Linked DNA regions of Homo sapiens. The protein of the gene in region 1 interacts with the protein of each later gene in a biochemical or structural test. Each region holds a gene or a part of one and is shown in the gene's direction. Other genes may lie near its edges.

What was found. The genes of interacting proteins can lie anywhere in the genome.
Region 2: the proteins of SIRT1 (region 1) and PML form a complex in vitro, tested with the Homo sapiens proteins (one study listed by BioGRID).

What each region holds. Positions count from the first base shown.
Region 1 is NC_000010.11:67,887,656-67,891,155, forward strand, and holds part of SIRT1 (NAD-dependent protein deacetylase sirtuin-1), read left to right. Parts: intron 1-1,226; coding exon 1,227-1,468; intron 1,469-3,500. UniProt on the Homo sapiens protein: NAD-dependent protein deacetylase that links transcriptional regulation directly to intracellular energetics and participates in the coordination of several separated cellular functions such as cell cycle, response to DNA damage, metabolism, apoptosis and autophagy.
Region 2 is NC_000015.10:74,001,216-74,004,715, forward strand, and holds part of PML (protein PML), read left to right. Parts: intron 1-3,500.

The sequences.
Region 1 (3,500 bases):
ACCCTCCGCCTTCCAGGTTCAAGCGATTCTCCTGCCTCAGCCTCCCCAGCAGCTGGGATTACATGCATATGCCACTACGCCCGGCTAATTTTGAATTTTTAGTAGAGACGGGGTTTCTCCATGTTGGTCAGGCTGGTCTTGAACTCCCGACCTCAGGTGATCCGTCCGCCTGGGCCTCCCAAAGTGCTGGGATTACAGGCATGTGCCACCTTGCCCCACCTCACTTGTCCCCTTTTTGTGTAGTGTTCTTCATCCGGTTAGAATATCTTCCTCCCTCACTTCATATTCCTTGTTTTTTCACTTTATTGTACACTTACCACTTCTTGAAAAGCTCTGTATCTTACTTTTTAAATTGTGTTGTTTCCTGGTCTAGAATATAAGTTCTACGGGAGCAGGAATTTTTGACTGACTTGTATACTCCTGTCTTTTCAGTGCCTAAAAAAGTGCCTGGCACATAGTTTGTGCTCAATAAATATTTAATAAATATGTGAATGAAATGGGAAAGTATTTCGATGTAGAAAGCATTATCAGTTTTTTATACCAAAGGTATAACCATCTTGAAAGTGGATCTTTTTGTGTTCTCACTCTTACAAATGGCTTGATTATTTAAACATAGTGAAGATCAGTTTCTCTTTGGTGTCTGTAATTTATTTATTTATTTATTTTTGTTTTCTCAAGCCTAGGGAGCTGGTTTGAGCAATCTCAGGGTAAAAGAAAATGATTAGTTCTCAGAACATCAACATTGTATGTATTATCTTGGAAGATGGGTTAAGATCAAATTGAAAAATTACCGGAAAAAAATTAAGATGGCAGTTATGTATAGATTTTCATTTCTTTTTCCTGTGTGGTTTTAATGATAAGTAGTACAGGCTTTTAGGACTGGTACGATTTTTCTATGTCGTAGAACCCTTTTGTAAATACTTTTGGTATTATGGTGTGTGTTTCTAGATATTAACCATAAGAACTTAATTCTGGTTGTTAATTAATTAGACTCTTGAAATATATACTTACAGCTGAAGGGGGTCTTCCCAACTCTTCATTAGATCTTCCTAATCTCATTGGGATATAGCATTAATTCTGAGTGTACCGAGAATGAAATACCATTAAATTGCATTTTCTTACTTTGCAAAAAACCCTCACAGAATGCTAACTCATTACTTCAGAAAATAAATGAGATTTTGAATTACTTGATAAGTTGACTTTAAGCCTTTTCCCCCTTATTGTAGGTCCATATACTTTTGTTCAGCAACATCTTATGATTGGCACAGATCCTCGAACAATTCTTAAAGATTTATTGCCGGAAACAATACCTCCACCTGAGTTGGATGATATGACACTGTGGCAGATTGTTATTAATATCCTTTCAGAACCACCAAAAAGGAAAAAAAGAAAAGATATTAATACAATTGAAGATGCTGTGAAATTACTGCAAGAGTGCAAAAAAATTATAGTTCTAACTGGAGCTGGGGTATGTAAGACTAGTACATGGGGAGGTCGTATATGTATTTTCTTATGCCTTTTCCAAGTAGGAAACATTTTTCTGGTTTAGAAGGATTTATCCTTACATGATAATGGATGTTTGGGAACTGCCAAAAACTGAGTGCAGCAGCAGTTGCTAAATTAGTTCAGATTTTTAAAACCTCTCCAGCCTTAAAAAAATATTTGCTTCTGCTTATTTATAGCACAGTGGGTAAATGGAGTTAAGGCAAGATTTCTACCTACATTATATCATAGCTCCTAAAGGAGATGCAGGGAATTGAAACTCTGCTTTTGTTAAGGGATGTCAGTCTGATGGAGAAATTGGGTATTTGTTAGATCTTTATGAGAAACTGGAAACCTAATTGGTATTCACAAGTGAAAAGCTTAGTGTTGGGAAGAGTAACAGATTCCTACCTTCCCTCCATATTAATTAAGATGATGTGATTGTGGCGACTTGACATTTTCTATTTGATCTACCTTAGGGTTGCAGCTAATTAGTTACCTAAGACTATTGCATAGTGTGTGTTTTATACAGAGTATATTACATGTTAGCAACCAGAGCAACTGCTGTAGTAAAATTTTGTCCTGTTTTCTGCCATTTCGAGTTGCGAAAGGGTGTTACATAATCTTAGATGATCATCAGGAGTATGTTTTGCTCACAGATAACGATGTAGACAAGTTTGTTTAACTTAAATTGACCTTGACTCCAGGTCAAATTGGAGTCAACTCTGGTAAGATGATGAAACAATAACTTCTGAAATCTCTATTTGAAATGTCAGGATTTTTTTGTACGATTAGTGGGCACGTCTCAAAGAAATGAAGAATTGAAATATTATACACCTTTTTTTTTTTTCTTTTTTTTGGATACAGGGTCTTGCTGTGTTGCCCTGGCTGGAGTGCAGTGGTGTCATCATGGCTCACTGCAGTCTCAGCCTCTCCTGGCCTGAGTCTTGCTCTGTTGCCTAGGCTGGAGTGCAGTGGCAGGATCTTGGCTCACTGCAACCTCTGCCTCCTGGGTTCAAGCAATTCTCTTGCCTCAGCCTCCTGAGTAGCTGGGATTACAGGCGCACACCACCACACCTGGCTAATTTTTGTATTTTTAGTAGAGATGGGGTTTCACCATATTGGCCAGGCTGGTCTGAAACTCCTGACCTTGTGATCCGCCTGCCTTGGCCTCCCAAAGTGCCAGGATTACAGGCGTGATCCACCGTGCCTGGCTATACATTGTTTTTTTTAATGAAAATAGAGAATTGTTGTAGTATTGAGGTAATAGAATCCTAACTAAAGGAGCAATTTCTTTGGAATTACTTCTCTGTAATAGAAATTCTTGGCTGGTGGAGTGGCTCATGCATGTAATTCCAGCACTTTGGGAGGCTAAAGTGGGAGGATCACTTGAGCCCTGGAGTTTGAGATCACCCTGAGCAACATAGACCCTGACTCTACAAAAAATTAGCCTGGTGTGCTGGTGCGTACTTGTAGTCCCAGCTGCTAAGGAGGTTGAGGTGGGAGGATTGCTTGAGCCGGAAAGGTTAAGGCCATAATGAGCCATGATGGCACCACTGCACTCCAGCCTGGGCGTCAGAGCGAAACTGTCTAAAAAGAAAAAAAACAAAAAGCCGGGCGCGGTGGCTCACACCTGTAATCCCAGCACTTTGGGAGGCTGAGGCCTGCGGATCACGAGGTTAGGAGATCGAGACCATCTTGGCTAACATGGTGACACCCCGTCTCTACTAAAAATACAAAAAATCAGCCGGTCGCGGTGGCAGGCACCTGCATTCCCAGCTAATCAGTAGGCTAAGGCAGGAGAATGGTGTGAACCCAGGAGGCGGAGCTTACAGTGAGCCGAGATCGCACCACTGCACTCCAGACTGGGCGACAGTGTGAGACTCTGTCTCAAAAAAAAAAAAAACAAAAAAAAAAAGAAAAAATTCTTCCCTACTTAAAATAATTTGTTGAAATGGTTTATTTTCTTCTCAAGTTGCATTTGCTTTAATTTGTTGGCTAAATGCTTAAAAGGCTTA
Region 2 (3,500 bases), on another chromosome or scaffold:
AATGTTTTCCTTCTTTCTGTTTGATCATTTTATTTTTGTCATTTTCTTCCTTCTAACTTTTGTCATTATTCATTTTCTAGCTTCTTGAACTTATAATTCATTTATTTGCAATCTTTATTGTTTAATAATAATAACTTTTTTTTTTTTGAGAATCTCCCTCTGTCACCCAGGCTGGAGTGCAGTGGTAGATCTTGGCTCACTGCAACCTGTGCCTCCTGGGTTCAAGTGATTCTCCTGCCTCAGCCTCCCCAGTAGCTGAGACTACAGGTGCCCACCACCATGCCTGGCTAATTTTTTTTATTTTTAGTAGAGACGGGGTTTCCCCATGTTGACCAGGCTGGTCTCGAACTCCTGGCCTCAAGTGATCCACCCGCCTCAGTCTCCCAAAGTTCTGGGATTACAGGCGTGAGCTACAATGCCCTGCCTAATAATAACTCTTTTAAGGCATAAGTTCTCTGTATATGGTTTTGGCTGTATGCCATAACTTTGATAACTTCATTAGTGTTCTCATAGTCAATCATTTCTCAAATTTCATTTCAGTCTTTTCTTAAAAAGGTTCTCTTGCTTAAGGTCAAGAGTTCGAGATCAGCCTGGGCAACATAGCAAGACCTCATCTTTACAAAAAATAAAAAAAATTAGCCAGGCATGGTCGGTGGTACATGCTTGTAGTCCCAGTTATTTGGGAGGTTGAGGCAGGAGGGTTGCTTGAACCTAAGAATTTGAGCCTGCAGTGAGCTGTGATGGTGCCACTTCACTCCAACCAGAGCATCAGAACCGGACCCTGACTCGAAAAAAAAAAAAAAGAAATTTTTTTCTCTTGAAAAGTTTTAGAGAATAGTGTTTTCTAAAATTTTCAAGTGGTTTTGATGTTTGGTTTCTTGTTCTGTCACCCAGGCTGGAATGTGATGGTGCGATTTCATACTTGTTAATTTCTGCACTATGGCCAGTTTATACAGTTTGTATGAGTTCTACATCTAAGACTATATTGAGATTTTCTTAGCGGCCTAGGATATTCCTTGGACTCACATATTCCTAGCAATAATCCTTAGAGTTGAAAAGTTGTATTTGTTGTACACACATATATATACATACACAAATATATGTATATAATATATATGTGTATATATGCATATATCTATATGTATATATCCATATATATGTAAGTTCTAGTGCTTGTGTGTGTGTGTGTATCTCCACGCTATTGAAACTTTCTACCTTTCTTTCTTTTCTTTTTTTTTTTTTTTTTTTGATGGAGTCTTGCTCTGTCATCCAGGTTGGAGTGCAGTGGCATGATCTCGGCTCACTGCAACCTCCTCCTCCCGGGTTCAAGTGTTTCTCCTGCCTCAGCCTCCTGAGTAGCTGGGATTACAGGCGTGTGCCACCATGCCCGGCTAAGTTTTTTTTTTTTTTTTGTATTTTTAGTAGAGAAGGGGTTTCATTATGTTGGCCAGGATGGTCTTGATCTCCTGACCTTGTGATCCACCCGCCTCAGCCTCCCAAAGTGCTGGGATTACAGGCGTGAGCCAACATGTCTGGCCGAAACTTTCTACCTTTCCTTCCATTCTGTTTCACCAGTTCTCTAAATGATAATTACAGAGTGGTAACTTCCCCATCAAAACATATATATAGGCCAGATGTGGTGGCTTCCACCTGTAATCCCAACACTTTGGGAGGCCAAGGCCGGTGGATATTTTGAGCCCAGGAGTTTGAGGCCAGCCTGGGCAATATGGTGAAACCCCGTCTCTACAAAAAAATACAAAATTAGCTGGACATGGTGGCACATGCCTCTCGTCCCAGCTATTCGGGAGGTGGAGGTATTCCTCAGAGAGGATCACCTGAGCCTGTCCGTTCAAGGATGCAGTGAGCCATGATCACGCCACTGCACTCCAGCCTGGGTGACACAATGAGACTCTGTCTTAAAAAAAGAAAAAAAGTGGGCCAGGCGCAGTGGCTCACGCTTGTAATCCCAGCACTTTGGGAGGCTGAGGCAGGCGGATCATGAGGTCAGGAGTTCAATACCAGCCTCACCAACATGGTGAAACCTCGTCTCTATTAAAAATACAAAAATTAGCCGGGCGTGGTGGCGGGCGCCTGTAATCCCAGCTACTCGGGAGGCTGAGGTAGGAGAATTGCTTGAAACTGGAAGGCGGAGGTTGCAGTGAGCTGAGATTGTGCCACTGCACTCCAGCCTGGGCAACAAGAGTGAAACTCCATCTCAGAAAAAAAAAGTGTATACACACACCAACACACACATACATGCACACTCTAGAACCTATCTCATCTATCACCACAAAGAGTAGAATATAACTATTCTTCCAGAGAAAATAAAACATTTAGCACACTTTTATAGTTTTTCTTCTTCCCTCTTCCTTCTCACTTTCAGATTTAGTTGAAATAATGTGAACTTTTAGTTCCAGATTACTACCAAATTGTTAATTTTTTTTTCTTTTGTAAACATCCTTTCTGAACAGGTATTAAGCTTCATGGTCATATTACAACGCACTTGTTAGCCATACCTTATACTTTAATTGGTTTCATTGCTCATGATAAGTTTTCCTATAGCTTTTCTTCTCCTTTCTTGAATTATTTAAGGTGATTAATTTTCCATTTGGCAGGAATACTCCATCAAGTAATTAAAAAAATTATTCCAGAGTTTACTTTCTGAGACCTTAAGTGTCTTTACTTGTATGTCCTTCTTTTGCTGTCACATGTGAGGGAAAGTTGAGCTAGGTGTAAAATTCTGAGGTCATAATCACAGTGCTTTCACCTCAGAATATATAAACCTTGCTTCATAAATTTCTAGTCTCTGGTGTTGTAGATGAGAAGTCCACTAATGGTCTATTTTTTCTCTGTGAGTAATCTGTTTTTGTTTGTTAAGGATCTTTATTTATTTTTATTTATTTTACTTTTTAGAGATGGGGTCTCACTCTGTCACCCAGGTTGGAATGCAGTGGTGCAATCAGAGTTCACTGCAGCCTCAAACTCCTGGGCTCAAGCAATCCTCCCACCTTGACCTCCCAAGTAGCCAGGACTACAGGCACCTGCCACCGTGCCTGGCTAATAAATATAGTTGGATGGTTTTCATTTGTTTATTTGTTTGTTTAGAGATAAGTTCTTGCTCTGTTGCCCAGGCTGGTGTGCAGTGGTGTGATCATAGCTCACTGTAACCTCGAACTCCTAGACTCAAGAGGTCTGCTAGCCTTAGTCTCTGAGTAGCTAGGACTATAGGTGCCTGCCACCATGCCTGGCTAATTTTTAAAATTTTATGTAGAGATAGGGTCTCACTATATTGCCCAGGCTGGTCTAAACTCCTGGCTTCAAGTGATCCTCCTGCCTTAGCCGCCCAAAGCACTGGGATTACAGGCTTGAGCCCATGCCCAGCCTGCTAAAGATCTTTATATAATTTTTTCTTTTTTCAATAATCTTCTATCGCCATTGTTGATCTGAAAAACTCAAGTCTTTCTTCAGCTCTTCATCTCAGGGAAATTGTATTCTGCTTT